2 separate regions of the Homo sapiens genome follow, and region 1 is linked to region 2. The links come from fine-mapping of genetic effects on gene expression. Tissue or cell type: sigmoid colon. Region 2 holds a variant in brackets; the other region holds the start of a gene. All regions are shown on one strand. Distances are from middle to middle. Region 1 holds the start of GALNT17 (polypeptide N-acetylgalactosaminyltransferase 17). Region 2 overlaps GALNT17 (polypeptide N-acetylgalactosaminyltransferase 17).

Region 1 (8,330 bases), 230 kb before region 2:
AGCCCACCTCCCGCTTCCCCAGACCAGCGGCCTTCAGTCAGGGTGCACTTGTCCCTTTCACGCCCCAGAAGCTTTTCTTTTTCTTTTCTTTCTTTCTTTTTTTTTTTTTTTTTTTGAGATGGAAACTCACTCTGTCGCCCAGGCTGGAGTGCAGTAGGGCGATCTTGGCCCACCGCAACCTCTGTCTCCTGGGTTCAAGTAATTCTTTTGCTTCAGCTTCCCTAGTAGCTGGGAGGTGTCCCACCACGCCCAGCTAATTTTTGCATTTTTAGCAGAGACAAGATTTCACCATGTTAGCCAGGCTGGTCTCGAACTCCTGACCTCAGGTGATCTGCCCACCTTGGCCTCTCAAAGTGCTGGGATTTCAGGCGTGAGCCACCTCGCTCAGCCCCTAGAAGTTTTTCTTTTCTTTCCTCTGCCTGCCTTTGAGTTTCTACCACATGCAAGGAATGATGGCTGACTCCCTTGCAATAGCAAGCTCAGAATAGACAGCCTTTGCTTGTCCTCACTTGGGTGGTCTTTGTTTATTTCCATGGTGCTTATTAGATGCCTAGCACTGAGCTAAGCAATTTACACATATTAGCTCATTTATGCTTGCAACTTCAAGAGGTAATATTATGGATATTATTCCTGTTTGACAGCTAGAAAAATAAAAATGGGTAATGCCCAGAGAAGTGAGGTAATTTGCTCAAGGTCACACAGCAGATTCAATGGTGAGGCTAGGCTGATGCATGTACAATGCCTGACACACAATACCTAGGCACTGAGCACAGTCAGCACAGCTTGGTCTCTCCCTGTTTACTTATCTCCCGTGTAAGCTCCCCACCACTGCTACACTGTGAATTCTTGAAGCGGGGAGGTAGATTCATGTCTTTTTGTTTCCTCCTTTAAAAAATCTGTAGCTGGGCGCGGTGGCTCACTCCTGTAATCCCAGCACTTTGGGAGGCTGAGGTGGGCAAATCACCTGAGGTCAGGAGTTCAAGACCAGCCTGACCAACATGGAGAAACCCTGTCTCTATAAAAAAAAAAAAATACAAAAATTAGCCTGGTGTGGTGGCATGTGCCTGTAATCTCAGCCACTCGGGATGCTGAGACAGAAGAATCGCTTGAACCTGGGAGGCGGAGGTTGTGGTGAGCCGAGATCATGCCATTGCACTCCAGCCTGGGCGACAAGAGAGAAACTCCGTCCAAAAAACAAAACAAAACAAAATAAAAAACACCCTGCAGGTAGGAGGCCATAATCCTAAGAGGATTAACGCAGGAACAGAAAACCAATTACTGCATGTTTTCACTTATAAGCGGGCACTAGACATTGAGTATGTGTGGACATCAAGATGGGGACAATGGACACTGGGGCTACTACAAGGGGGGTGGGGGGGAAATGGATTGAAAAACTACCAGCCGGGCACAGTGGCTCACTCTTGTAATCTCAGCACTTTGGGAGGCCGAGGCAGGCAGATCACCTGAGGTCAGAAGTTCGAGACCTGCCTGGCCAACATGGCGAAATCCCATCTCTATTAAAAATGCAAAAATTAGCCAGGCGTGGTGGCCCTGCCTGTAATCCCAGCTACTTGGGAGGCTGAGGCAGGAGAATCGGTTGAACCCAGGAGGTGGAGGTTGCAGTGAACCCAGATCGTGCCACTGCACTCCAGCCTGGGCAACGGCAAGACTTCTCTCAAAAAAAAAAAAAAAAGAAAGAAAGAAAGAAAGAAAACTACCTATTGGTTCTATTGGTTACTATGCTCATTAGTACCTGGGTGACAGAATCCGTACCCCAAACCTTAGCATCACACAATATACTCATGTAACAAACCTGCACGTATACCCTCTGTGTCTAAAATGAAAGTTGAAATTATAACAACCAAAACTCCAGTATCTTTTGCAATGCTCAGGGTTTTATGAGAGTGAAGGCTTTGCCTCGCGAATTCTAGCAAGAGTAAATGAGTTGGCCAAACCTCTGTAGAGAGATGAGTCCCTGGTTTCCCTTGGCGAAACTCCAAGTATTTTAACTCCTGTTATGGACTCAGATGAGATGCGATACATTTTTAACAGACAAACAAAGGGGACAGAGTCATGTCAAAGGCATATGTTATTTGAACCATGGTTGAGTGAAAAATGTATTTGAAATAAAAAATCCTTGCACAGAAATACCATTGGTCTCTTTCCTTTCAGTTTGCTCAACCAACCAACCAAAGAAACTCTTTTGATAAAGCTTTTGTAGTTAAACTGAGTTTTATGACTGGGAATGGTTTTGGGTGCCATCCAAGATAAATTTCTTCTTTTAAAGTCAAGAACAGATTTATTCTTTGGTGACCGAAATGGGACTGGAACCCAGACCTTATGGCGAGCAGACCACACAGCCACTGAAGTGTAGTTTTGTTGGTTTCAGAAGCAGCTGGTATATAATAAACGTTTAGTTGATTATGTTTTTGCATATATAACATGCTAGGCAGGTCCTTAAACTTTTAGGGTCATTGACTATGTTGAGAATCTGATGAAACTTACAGGTCTTTTCCCCAGAAAAATGTCTATGTAACATGCAGATACACTTTTTCATCTGATTGAGAGCTATTCATGAACTCCTGAAGTCTAGCTAGGGTGTCTCTAGGGAGAGGAGCTGGCTAGGGACATGGAATAGAGCTTTTCAGTAGAATCGAAGGCCCAGGTAAGGTTAGACACCACCAATTGGAAATGCCTGCAGGCTTTGAGATGATGTGGTTTTTCCCTGGGTACACTTGCTCTTGCCTTTGTCCTTGGGTTGAGAAAGAAGAAGGTGAAATTGATTCAGAGTTGGGGATTGCTAGGCTGGGGCAGTGGAAAAATATGATATACATGTGCATGATCCTTAATAGCAGGCCCTATTAGGAATGTGTTTGAAATAAATGACTAACCATGAACTCCAGAAAGAGGAGGGAAGGAACTCCAGAGGGGATAGAGAGGCATGGACACCTGGGAAGGAGAAGGAAGTTGTTGGCTGGAGAATATGTTTGTTTGGAGTTGAGAATGGGAGAGGTAAAAAGCTAGGGAACAGTAATAACAGGCTGGGATTTTAGTGCAGGATTGCAGGAGTGGAAGGCTCCTCTGTGAATACAGGGTTCAGGATGAGGCCATGACAGTGGGTCACTCATTGAGTAGTGTCCAGTGTCATTTTTGAACACAGAAGCTGCCCAGAATGCGTGCAGGAGCTGAGAGGAGGCTCCTGGAGGATGCATGATAAAGCCAAAAGTTAATTTGCATCAGGGACCTCTCTGGCTTTAGAGAAAGCACAGAAATCTCTCTGAAATTGAAATTTGCCTGGAAACTTCTCGATTACTCTGAGGCTGTTTCCTCTACTTTGTTTCCTGTCTTCCACTCCCAAATATGCACACGCTTGAGAGTCAGCCTCAAGCACATACTTAGAGCCACTTACTGCTTCTCGGGCACCCTAGCCCAATGCCTCAGCCTCCCTGGCTTCAGTCCTGCGGCTGAGTGAATGTTCAAAAATTATTTTTGCAGAAGCTTCCATTGATTGTGCTAGCTCCATCTGTAGTGTGGTTATAATAACACCCAACTCAACTGGATACTCCATGAGATGCTCAGTAACCCAAGTTTCTTCCCACACAGCCTCTCTCTTGCCTAACATGTGTGGCTAAAAATCATCCCTTGGGCCTTTTTAACTGTTTTGTGTCCACTTTCAGGTAGATTTTACAAAGCATGCGCCCTGAGGACCCGATTGCACCCAGGCAGAGAATTCCAAGGGAATGAAATAAAAAGACTATTTTTTTGCATATACATTTCTATGTTAAAAATCAAAACTTAAAATAATACACAGGCAAAAACAAAACAAGAAACCAAGCCCCAGAAAAAACCAAAACAACCGCAAAAACAAAAACAAAAACTTTAATGAGATCAAAATGATGAGGGGAAAACGATCAGCTCCATTTAGCTTTGCTGCCCGATTTTTATTAGTTGGCGGCCTGATTTCTATTTTAGACCCAAGGAATTAAATGGATCAACCGGGGTGGGGGGGCGTTGAATTCCAGTATTTCGAGTTCCTGGGTTTTGGGAAGAGGAAGAGGTAGTGGAAAACCAGGAGCCAAATGAATATGCTTCTTATAATAAAATTTGAACAGAGCAGCGGGTGGGCCTAGAAGCAGTGACTGGGGAGGTTAGAATTCTTGCACGCAGAGAACCCCCCCAAGCCCGCTCACGCCCGGCCTGGCTCCGAAGGTCTCAGAATCCGAGCCTCCAGGCCAGATTTTCCCTCTAGCCATTCCTGGCCACGCAGCGCGGAGCCGCGAGCACACAGAAAAGGATGTCTTCATCGCCAACCGGGATGGAACGAACCCGCCCGCTCAGGGAGTACTGAGAACTAAAGGGTCCCTCCAGCGCCGGCCGCAGCCAGCATGCCTTGACTGCCTCCATCCCGCGCGGTCCCCACTCTCCAGAAGCCCCCGCCCTGCCCGGGTGCGCGCGCGCACGAGTCGGCGAACCGGGGAGCTGTGCGCTCGGCAGCCTGCGGGCGGCGGCGGCGGCCGCCGACAGCCTCTCGGGGACAGGGTGGCGAAGAGCGGCGGAGGAGGAGCTGGCGCCGCCGCCGCTCCCCTCGGGCCGCGCCCCGCCCTCCGCCGCCACCTGCGCGTCCCCTCCGGGCTCCTCAGCTCCGGGGCTGTGTGGCTCTCGGTGCCGCAGCGGCGGTGTCACCGCGTCCGCCAATTGGGAGACTCGGCGTTTTGGCTCCCGGGGGCGCGGGACGAGCCGCGCGGCCGGATCTGGCGAGCGGAGGGTGATTCGGCACGCGTACCTCCCCGCCGCGCTGCCCGCGACGTTTTGGGAGGGGGTAGAGAACTGCTGTGACTTTTGAGGTCCGACTCCTTCCGGCCAGCCTCGCGACGCGCCAGCTCCGAGACAGGCCGGTGTGCCCTGAAGGCCCCGAAGGCTCTCGGCGCGGTTTGGGGGCTTGGAACGTGTCCGGGAGCCGGCGGCGCTGTGAGCGCTGGTGAGTTTGCCGGCGGGGTGGGGTGGACTCCGCGCGGGGGGCGGAGAGGACGTAGCGCTCGGCCCGGCGCCCGCCCCCTAGTGCTGCCCCCACTTTGAGAGTAATTGAGACTTGAGCGTGACTGCGGAGCCTGGAGGATGCGGGCTCCCCGAGCGGGCTTCCCCTCTGCCCGGCGCGATGGAGCGGGTCGGTGAGCGGAACAAAGGCGCCTGCCCGGGGGAGCGGGTCTTCCGCTGAAGAGCGCGGGTGGCGCGCCGCGACGGCCGCCTGCGGGCCAAGGTGGGAGGCTGTGCGGCCCCAGGCGCGGCGCGCTCCGCCGTGGGCGGGCGGCGATCCCTGAGTCCGGCACCTGTGCGCCGCTCCCTCTGTGCCTCCCGGGCAGCCCCGCCTGCCGGCCTCGGAGTCCGCGGCGCCGGCGGCTAGAGGTCCAGAGGCGAACCACTTGCTGGTGCAGAAGAGAAACCCTCAAATCCCTGGCCTTTCGCGGAGACGCCTGGACGGGGCCGTGCGCCGTGGACTGAGCAGGCGTCTCGGGGAGCACTTCTGCAGAGCGAGGACTTCCATGTGAGCGATTCCGTTCTCCCCACCACCAATCCGACCTCCCAGCCGTCTCCGCCGCCCGAGCATCCTTGAGGTGGGACGAGCAGGGGCTTGGATCCCTGCCGGCCGTCTGGTGTGTGAGGCTTGCACGGCCCCTGGCTGCCCCGCGCCTCGCCGGAGCCCGAGGGGGCGCAGGTCCGGGGCGAGGGCCGGCCGGGCTGTTTGATGGCTTCACTGAGAAGAGTCAAAGTGCTGTTGGTGTTGAACTTGATCGCGGTAGCCGGCTTCGTGCTCTTCCTGGCCAAGTGCCGGCCCATCGCGGTGCGCAGCGGAGACGCCTTCCACGAGATCCGGCCGCGCGCCGAGGTGGCCAACCTCAGCGCGCACAGCGCCAGCCCCATCCAGGATGCGGTCCTGAAGCGCCTGTCGCTGCTGGAGGACATCGTGTACCGGCAGCTGAATGGTAAGGACGCACGCCGGCGCCTCCGGGGCTCGACGCGGGCGGGCCGGGCACAGGGTGAGCCCCAGGGTCCTTGCGCGCTGCGCCCTGTGCCTGGGAGCCGGCACACCCTGGCTCCCGCGCGCTCCTTCTTACCCTTCCTGCCCCGTTTCGGGCAGATGGCCGGGGCTGCTGGAAAGAACAACTTGCCTGATTCTTTTCTGTGCCCCACCTGCAAATTTGGTTTTATCCTGGAAACATGTCAGTACAGTTGGCTCCCGGTCCCCGCGTGCGGACTGGAAATCATTCCCTGGCGACTCCAGCCCGAGCGCAGAAACTAGTGGAGGGGCCACATGGGACTGGAGGCGCGCGGGCAGACGTGTAGGAGGAAATAGTCTTAGAGCCCAGCGTTTGGTGGGGTACCAGTAGGGAACCTGGGAGATTGGAGGGCTTGGATGTCTGCAGACAAAGTCAAGGCCCCAGGTCGCGGAGCTAATGCGCTTAGGTAGTATATGGGAGGAATATGTCATCTGTCTATGAGGCGAGCTGCTCAGCTAAGAATGAGGACTCCTCCCTTCCTGCCGCCTGTGTTTCTCCTTGGGGGCTGCGGAGGGGCGATTGTTAAAGCTCAGGGTGGGCCTGCGAAGTTTCCAGAATGTAGCACAGAGAGATGTGGCATCCCATTAGTGACAGTTGTCTGAATCTGTCCCATCTAAAATGTTGTGCTCAGTACTTCAGGAGAAGAGGGAGACTTTTTATGTGCTCTTGTCACACCTGGGCCAGGTCATTGGACACTAGCTGTCCCCAACGTCAGAGTGAGTGTTACCTACCTGAGTACAGGCAGGTTTCCAGGATGCGTGGGGTTATCCAAGGCAGATACGTACTTAGGTACAGACTACCTCCTCCCTTTCTGAGCTTGTAACTCATGTTCTCAAACGAACTGCAGATAATCACGAAGATCGTGATAATAATAACTGATGGAATTCTTGCTCTGTGCCAGATGCGTGCAAAGACATTACAAGTACATTATCTCACTGTATGTTCACATCTGTCCAGCGAGGCTCCACCCATCCACAGAGGGGAAATGAGAAGACTAAGCGAGGGGAGGTTAACTAAGTTGCCCTGTGTTAAATAAGATATAACTGCGCCCCAAACCTCTGTAATCGGAATAATAATAGAGTCTGGAGTCAGAACCCTGTGTCTGGTTGACCACAGAGCCTGTGCGCTTGACCTCTTAGGCTCAAACTTCTATCCATGGTTTTCCCCTAAGTGAAAGGAGTATTAGGTTTGTTGAAAACAGAAATATGTGGAATTGCAAATACAGACATATACCTTCTCACATTGGAGGATCTCAACTGTCTTCACTGTGGTGGCAAGGGGCAGGGAGAAGGAGGATGGCAAATGGTTCTTTTCAGGCTCACCAAAGGTCCCTGCTGGGTACTGGGGGAGGGATGGGATGGAGGGAGAGGGGTGGTCAGATCTCTGAGCAGGTGAAAGGACGCTGCGGTCTTCTCGAAGCCATTTGACAGATATCCAGGGGATGCCTTGAACTTGCAGGGTATATGGCCTGACTGTCAGGGTAGCCCACGGAAGTTATGCAGAAGCTCTTCTCTCAGGTGTCAGAAATATGGCACAGAATGCGACAAAAACCCATAGTTCATTTCTGGAGGAATCAGAAACTTACGGGGTGGCCTTATAATTTGGGATAGATTCCTGCTGTAGACATACCCATAGGAACTTCAAAGGTTAACCTGGTTTCCCTCATCAGGCTTTTCTCAGGGACACAGGTTAGTTTAGTATCAGTTTCTTTGTTTTATGGTTTTTTTTTTTTTTTTTTTTTTTTTTTTTTTGAGACAGGGTCTTCTCGCTCTGTCCCCCTGGCTGGAGTGCAGTGGTGCAATCATAGCTCACTGAAGCTTCAAACTCCTGGGCTCAAGTCATTCTCTGGCCTTAGCCTCCCAAGTAGCTGGGTCTACAAGTGTGCATCACCATGCCCTTCTAATTTTTTAATTTTTTGTAGACACAGGGTCTTGCTAGGTTGTCCAGGCTGGTCTCGAATTCCTGGCTTCAAGCAATCCTCCTGCCTGGGCCTCCCAAAGTGTTGGGATGACAGGCGTGAGCCACCATGCCTGGCCCCAGTATTAGTTTCAATTAGGAGCATTAAATATTATATAGCTGTACCCTAACTTCCCTCATAGGAATAATAAAATTCTATAATAATAACTGATGGAATTCTTGCTGTGTGCCAGATGTGTGCAGAGACATTACAAGTGCATTATCTCACTGTATGTTCACATCTGTCCAGAGAGGCTCCACCCATCCCCAGTTGAGAAATGAGAAAACTAGGTGAAGGGAGGTTAGGAGGCTACTTTC
Region 2 (8,330 bases):
CTGTAGCCAACAGTGGTCATTCCTATATCTGCTTTTACAGTTTTTACTATCTATACCAGTTACTCTCAAAACTTCATGGGCATAAGAAACACCTGGGGGGGTGTCAATTGAAATACAAAATAAATAAAAAATAAAAAACCACTATCAACAACATTTGAGTCTTGCATTTTACCTGTGATATGGGTGCCTACAGACTTTATCAGTGTGCTTCTCATGGGAAGTTTTAGCACTTGAAACCCAGGGACACCATTTCTATTATCTGAGACCGCCTTGAAGGTTTCTTCCCCTTTCGATATTCCTCTCTGTTCTTTCTCACTAATTCTTGGAAAGTCATCTTCAATTCAGTTCAACAAATACCTATTGTATATTTACTATATAGTAGACACAGAGCTCAGAGCTTAAGGAATGTGAAAATGCACAAGACCTGCCCCCTGGCTACGAGGAGTTTTTTCATCTAGTAGGAGAAGCATATGTGTCTGGCTATAATACTTGGCAGAATAAAATAGCTGTGATGTTGAGTTTCGTTGAGTTTTATTTCTATTGCATAGATTGAATGTCTTCAGCTTCAGGTTGCAAATCCTGGTGACTCCAGCACAATATGTGTTATAAATAGCATTGCATCTTGACTGCAAATGAACTCAGAGAGAGAGAGAGAGAGAGACAGAGAGAGAGAGAGAGTGGGCAGGCAGGAAGATAAAAGGTTGAGCACAATTTGGGCGTTTGTTTATGTGATTGAACTACGGCTGGGGCTGGGCTAGGTGCTGTTCATGGCTGGAGGAGGCAGGTTCTTTTCCTGTATGAGATTTTTACTTTTTATTTTTATTTTTTGAGATGGAGTCTCCCTCAGTTGCCCAGGCTGGGGTACAGTGGTGCAGTCTCAGCTCACTGCAACCTCTGCCTCTTGGGTTCAAGAGATTCTCCTGCCTCAGCCTCCCGAGTGGCTAGGATTACAGGCGCCTGCCACCACGCCTGGCTAATTTTTTGTATTTTTAGTAGAAACGGGGTTTCTCCATGTTGGCCAGGCTGGTCTCGAACCCCTGACCTCAAGTGATCCACTTGCCTCGGCCTCCCAAAATGTTGGGATTATAGGCGTGAGCCACCGCGCCCGGCTTTGTATGAGATTTTGTCTTTGTGACTAAATCACTTCTTTGTGTACAAACTTACATTCTGCCCCTGAGCATGTGTGTTCATGCTTAACTGATTCAAAGACTACATTTCCCCCAACATATTACACCAAATGTACTTAACAGCAATTAGAATGTTTGCCGCCTGCTGTGTGCAGATCTCCCCAGAAAACAAAATTCTCCTAAATGGCAGTATAAGTAATTCTGAAGATTAAAGCTGGTGATTTGCAGAGTGCTTGGTTCGCTGGCTTCCTGCAAATATCAAGATTAACAAAGAAATTCATTGATCCCATTTTGCCTCCTTAATGCCTGTGCACAGGCCTAAGGGAACGCATCCCACGTGGCTGTGTGATTCAGATGAAGACTTGCTGTTGCTTTTTTTCATGGCCAAGATGCTGATTTAGTGGCATTTTTCTTGGCAAAAGTGCCCCAAGAAAACAAATCCATTTGTGTATATTTTTACGGGAAACGCTCCACCTAACCCTGCCCCGCTGAAAGCCTTCCCCGTGAGTCGTGAAGGAAACATGGCTGATTTGCTACTGTTCAAAGGGCGACTCAGGTCTTGACTGAAAGACCGTACACGGGTTGTTTGATGCTGTGTAAATCTCAGCCACGCTGAACACTCCTTTCCCCAACTCTAAATACAGGACCCCTGAACATGTTGCCCTCCACACCTTCTTCCATTTCTTTCTTTCTTTCTTTCTTTTTTTTTTTGAGGCAGAGTCTCACATTGTCACCCAGGCTGGAGTGCCGTGGCCCGATCTCAGCTGACCGCAACCTCCATCTTCTGGGTTCAAGTGATTCTCCTGCCTCAGCCTCCTGAGTAGCTGGGATTGCAGGCACGCACCACGATGCCTGGCTAATTTTTGTATTTTTAGTAGAGCCAGGGTTTCACCATGTTGGCCAGGCTGGTCTTGAACTCCTGACCTCAAGTGATCCACCCACCTCGGCCTCCCAAAGTGCTGGGATTACAGTCGTGAGCCACTGCACCTGGCCACTTTGTTCCATTTCTAATGTGTTAATGTACTCAATAAGCAATAGTTTTGGAGTGTAGATGGTGTACCCTGAAATGCACCAGGCACTGGAAAATACAGTGGTGATTGAGAGGCAAAGTCCTTACCCTCAGAGCAGAGCAATCTTTTGCAAACACACGTTGTGTCCTGGTCACTCTAGTGAGACCAGCAGCCAATGCCAGCCGCCAGTTTGGCGGCTTTCTCTGGACAGCTCCATCACCCCCATTCCCTTTGATTGAGACCTTTCTGTGTCCATGATGATCTCCCCAACTTGGAATTCTGCTCCATTCTCTGATTTCTTCATTCTCCGACTTCAAAACCAGCCTTCTTTAGTATTCCCTTCCAGCAGTTAAGTAACTTTCGTATAGCTGATATTAAAAAGAAAACCCTAGACAAATTAAATGAAACAGAGTTTAATTGAGCAAAGAAGGATTCGCAGATCGGACAGCCGCGTGGTGGATAAAGATTTAAGGACAGCAAAAGGAGAGTGGTGGACGGAAAACAGAAGCAAGGTAGAGAAGCAGCTTCTTGATTACAGCTCAGTGTTTGCCTTACTTGAGCACAGTTTGAACAGTTGGCCACCTTTGATTGGCCGAAACTCAGTGATTGGCACAAGAATAGGTGACAGTTTGTTTCCATATCCAGTAAGGTTACAGTCCACTATTTATGGAGAAACCTTGAGGTTTAACTTAAAGTATGCAAGGAGGCAGCTTTAGGCTAAACTTACATATATACATGTTTTTTTCCATAAGTTATTGGGGTACAGGTGGTATTTGGTTACATGAGTAGGTTCTTTAGTGATGATTTGGGTGCACCCATCACCCGAGCAGTATATACAGCACCCTATTTGTAGCCTTTTATCCCTCACCTCCCCTCCCACTTTTACCACCAAGTCCCCAAAGTCCATTGTATCATTCTTATTAGGCTAAACTTAATTTAACAGTAGTTAGTGGCAGGCCAGAGATTTGAAGTCAGGCCTCAGTACAGATTTGGTGTTCTGCCTTCCTCAGTTCTTGGCATGTAGGATCTTGGTGCTCCCACACAGTTTTATCTTTTCCTTCTCTGAGTGTCCTGGATGGAGTGTCTCGCTTCAGTCCTGGTTTTCACAGGACTCAGTGCCCTCCACCAATATCCTGCTGGGCCTAATTCTGCCTCTCTTCTGTGAGGTCGTTGTATGGGGTGGGATTCCCAAGGCAACATACCATTTTGCCAGGTAAATGGCATTCCTGGCAATATTCCTTTGGACCAGTGAGGAAAGTAGAACATTTTATGGGGTAGTGCAGATGTGTGACTAAATATTTTTCATTAGAACCCGTTTTCAATGACTCATTAAAGCAATTTTTAAACCCAGGCATGGAGTCAGGGAGCAAAACTGTCTTAGGGAGAAAAGAGGGAGGTATGTCAGGACACTCATTTTGAAGAAGGCATGACTTTGCCTACTAGAGCTTAGCATGCTTTCTGCTTACAATCCCACCTGCTGGCTGAGTGGAGAGCAAAATTCTTTAAAGATGTAGGAATGTAAGATGAGAGGAACTCATTTGCTGGGGCTGAATGCCAAGTGAAAATTCCGCTTCTTTAATCTACTTCCCTTCTCCTATCTTTCCCCTGCATTCCCAGATTTCTAAAAGGAATCATTTTAATACTTTTTTTTATTATTTTTATTTTGAGATGGAGTCTCACTCTGTCCCCCAGGCTGGAGTGCAGTGGCATGGTCTTGGCTCACTGCAACCTCTGCCTCCTGGGTTCAAGCGGTTCTCCTGCCTCAGCCTCCCAAGTAGCTGTGATTACAGGCC[T/C]GTGCAACACCATGCCTGGCTAACTTTTGTATTTTCAGTAGATACTGGGCTTCACCATGTTGGCCAGGCTGGTCTCACACTCCTGACCTAAAGTGATCTGCCTGCCTCAGCCTCCCAAAGCACGGGGATTACAGGCATAAGCCACCACATCCGGTCATGGAAGGAATAGTTTTTGTTTTTTTGAAACAGAGTCTCGCTCTGCTGCCAGGGTGGAGTGCAGTGGTGCGATCTCAGCTCACTGCAACCTCTGCCTCCCAGGCTCAAGCAATTCTCCTGTTTCAGCCTCCTGAATACCTGTACTACAGGCGTGCGCCACCACTCCCAGCTAATTTTTTGTAGTTTTAGTAGAGATGGGGTTTTACCATGTTGGCCAGGATGATCTCAATCTCTTGACCTGTGGTGATCCACCCGCCTCGGCTTCCCAAAGTGCTGGGATTATAGGCGTGAGCCACAGCGCCCACCCAGGAGGAATAGTTTTAATCTGTTGCATCCATCACTCCCTCCACAGCTCAGCATAGTAAGCACTGTATTGAAATGTGCAGATGTCTCCTATGATTTCCTGCCAAATTTAATAGTTTTAATAGAGTTTTAAATTCTTTTTTTTTTAATTTAAAGAAAGTATCCAAATGACAGTTGAATATGTTATTTATGAATTGTCTAGATCAGCAGTTCCCAGCCTTTTTGGTACCAGGGACTGGTTTCATGGAAGACAATTTTTCTATGAACTGGGGGTGAGGGGTGGGTTGGTTTGGGGATGATTCAAGCTCATTCCATTGATTGTGCACTTGTTTCTATTATTATTACATTGTAATATATAATAAAATAATTACACAACTCATTACAATGTAGAATCATGGGGAGCCCTGAGCTTGTTTTCCTGCAACTAGACGGTCCCATCTGGGGGTGATGGGAGACAGTGACAGATCATCAGGCATTAGATTCTCATAAGGAGCTCGCAACCTAGATCCCTCGTATGCTCAGTTCACGATAGGGCTTGCACTCTTACGAGAATCTAATGCTGCTGCTGAGCTGACAGGAGGCAGATCTCAGGTGGTCACGTGAGTAGATGGGGAGAGGCTGTAAATACAGAAGAAGTTTTGCCCACTCTCCTGACGCTCACCTCCTGCTGTGTGACCTGGATTCTAACAGGTCACAGACTGGTATTGTTCCGAGGCCTAGGGGTTGGGGACCTGTGATCTAGGTGTATACATAGAAAAAGAAACCCTCGGCTGGGCACGGTGGCTCACACCTGTACCAGCACTTTGGGAGGCCGAGGCGAGTGGATCACGAAGTCAAGAGATCGAGACCATCCTGGCCAACATAGTGAAACCCTGTCTCTATTAAAAATACAAAAATTAGCTAGGCATGGTGGCGGGCGCCTGTAATCCCAGTTACTCGGGAGGCTGAAACAGGAGAATTGCTTGAACCTGGGAAGCGGAGGTTGCAGTGAGCTGAGATCGTGCCATTGCACTCCAGCCTGGCGACAGAGCGAGACTCTGTCTCAAACAAACAAACAAACAAGAAATCCTCTTCAAGCCCCAGCCCCAGATCTCTCTCTTCTCAGCAAAGGTGACTACTGTTGGCTGTTTCTTGTGTGTCCTTCTGCTGTTTTCTTATGCATGAATATGTTAGACATGTCCATTTTTAATCTTGAAAGATTCTGCCGACTTGCTCTCTAAAGGACTCTGCCTGTTTATATGTCACCCAACAGTACATGAGTGGCCTTCCTCACACCTGACTCCCTAGGTAAGACCAGTCTTCATTTGTTTTGCCAACCTGAAGGCTAAAAAAATATTTCTTTATAGTTCTTGGATGCCTTTCTTTGACTATTACAGAGGTTGATCATCTCTTCATGTATTTATTGAATATGTGGGTTCCTTCTGTTGATTTCTGAGAGACATTTGTTCATATCACTCACTCGGACCGAGACTTTTTGTCTTTTAGTTCATGGATTTTCAATACATTTTGTTCTACCTATTGGTGAACTATGTTGTTAGGTATGTATATTCATGACTATTTAATTGTCTCAAGCAATACCTTTGATCAATAAAAAACATTCCTCTTTGACCCTGGATTCCTTCATGTCTCTTGTAAAACCACTGCCGTAATCTTATCCATCTACTTCTCTTGCCTCTCCTCATCAATACTTCTTCCTTATAGGCTTCTGAGTATCTTTGTAAAACATCAGTAGGTTCTAGCTGGGTGTTAGCCTGAGGATAAACTGATGAAGGGTATGGGACCAAAAAACATATAGGTGGAAACCCCAAATCCCAAGCGCTGGCCATGGGTTTACCTTGACATGTGTGCAGGGGAGGTGGGAAGGGGACAGTCTGGACCACTGGCATTTGGACCACACATCATAATGACAGCCGAGAAGGGAACCTATTTGGTATAGACCGAGCTTCCCTTCTGTTTGACATGTTTGTTGGTGGTTTCCAGACAAGTGTCCCTAATCTATGTGGTTGTTTGCCTTTAACAGATGGTTCCAGGTTACAGTGGGGCCCCCAATGCCTGAGGCCACCGGGAAATTGAGAAATCAGATCTAGTGAGTTGCCAATTTCTTTGACTGGTCTCACTAGCCACTGACGAGTCCACCAGCTCCTTTCAAATTTAATTTCAGGGGTCAAATGCCCCCTTCTATTTGGGGCTCTTCCTATCAGACCAAATGCCTTGTTTGTAGTTCTGATGATTTAGGCTGGAAAACACCGTTTTCTGCCAACGATGCAGTCAGCTGCATAGAACAAGCTGCCATTGTTAATTAGGTAAGTTATGTGGTCAAGGAAGTACCTTTTACTGGTGGTCTTTATTCAGAATAAGGAAGAGGGGACTTGTGATGGAGCCACACAGAGAACTAGCAGGTCACCAGCCAGAGCACTGGACCCTAGGAGAGGACTTGGGCTCTCTGAGCCAGTTCTGACTGCCCACGGAAGATGTCTCCACACATTCCCCATTGCTTGGGGCCAAAAGGCAGTGGCAGAATCTCTGGGGCCGTGGGAGGAGCCGAAGAACAGACGTGGGGAGGGGGAGGATTGTGATCTGGGGAAGAGAGCGTGCACACACGCATCTTGGTTGGACCTGAAGGGATGCTATGTTGTTCTTTGATTAACACACATGCTCTGTGTAATGTCACTTCTCTGGTCTAAAACCCTTGACACTGGGACTTCCCATGACTGGAGGATCAAGTCTGAATTTTATAAGGTGGCTTCAGAACACCTGGTACACTGCTGTCTTCTTTTCCTCGCCTCAGTCCCTTCCTGAAACATCTATTTCAGTTTCTTGGCGGTACATTGTACATTTTCTCTCCTCTGTTTTTACACATGCTATTCATTTTTTTCCTAGAGAGTTTTTCCCGTCTTCCTGTCTCCCCCTTTGCAGGCCCTCACCTGGAAATTACTTACTCATGCTTCATGACCCAGTTCAAATTTTGTCACCTCTGTGAAACCTTCCCTGGGCCCCGTTGATCTCCTTGAAGGCAGAAATAAGCTCCCAGAGCAGGATGAACAAACGTCTCTTGTCGCATTTATCCTTCCGTGTCATAATTATGATTTACATATATATTTTTTTCTTAAGGAGCTGTGAGCTTTTCCAGAATAACAGTGAGATTTTAGAAATTTCTGTATCCTCAACACTTTGCTTGCCCATAATTGATGCTCAGTGTTTGCAAATGTCACAGTTAAGCTAATGTTTCTGGGTGATATAGACATACTTGTTCTTCGGTGTGTTAAGAAGGAAGAAACAGATTTTTAAACTGATACAAGATCCATATTAAAATCAAAGGCTAGGCATGGCCCTCCATCAGTGATAAGCATTGAGGCGTATCTATACTGCCCAGTTTCCTCGGGGGTGGGGGGGGGTGTTCCTCTCTCCTAGCTTTTACCACTGAGATGAAATAAGAATCGGAATTAAATAAAGTCACCATCCTCAGCAAGAGATGAGTTTCTTCTCCAGTGATCTGATGTGGCATTTTCAGCCAGGAATGAGATATCCTGGGAGGGGAATCAGTATTTCTACAATTATAGGTTCTTCAATAAGTCCTAGAATACTAGAACTCTGTGCTCTGCACAACCTACTCTTAGTACACATGACCAGAATGCCTTTTCTCTGTTACATTGATTAATGTATTAAACCAATACTTATCAAGTATCTGGGATGAGCCTAACCTATGTCAGTAGATATATCAGCCAAAGATTAGTGGTCCCTGACCTCATGGAACCTGTAGGCTAGGGATGCAAAGGGTAAGAGTCAGGAACAAAGGCTATGGAGAGATTTATTGTTGCTACCCTGAGTTCCTGCCTCATGTATCCACTACCATTTCTATAGCTTCCTCAATAGCCCAAAGTGTGAGGAGTAAAGTTAATATGGCAGTCTCCAAGTTCGTAGGAGATCTTCCCTGTGGGGTT

The links. PIP is the estimated chance that this variant, and not a neighbour inherited with it, causes the effect.
Region 1: it holds the start of GALNT17, and the variant in region 2 is fine-mapped to the expression of GALNT17 in sigmoid colon (GTEx, PIP 0.96).

The regions. Positions count from the first base shown.
Region 1 is chr7:71,127,060-71,135,389 of GRCh38, forward strand. It overlaps GALNT17 (polypeptide N-acetylgalactosaminyltransferase 17), which reads left to right and starts at 5,085. Exons shown (of 11, transcript NM_022479.3): 1 at 5,085-5,981. The coding sequence starts at 5,744.
Region 2 is chr7:71,361,147-71,369,476 of GRCh38, forward strand. All of the region lies in intron 2 of GALNT17 (polypeptide N-acetylgalactosaminyltransferase 17), which reads left to right. Among named protein-coding and RNA genes, the nearest start is that of MIR3914-1, 58 kb to the left of the region's middle. The variant T/C (reference allele first, on the strand shown) is at 3,931.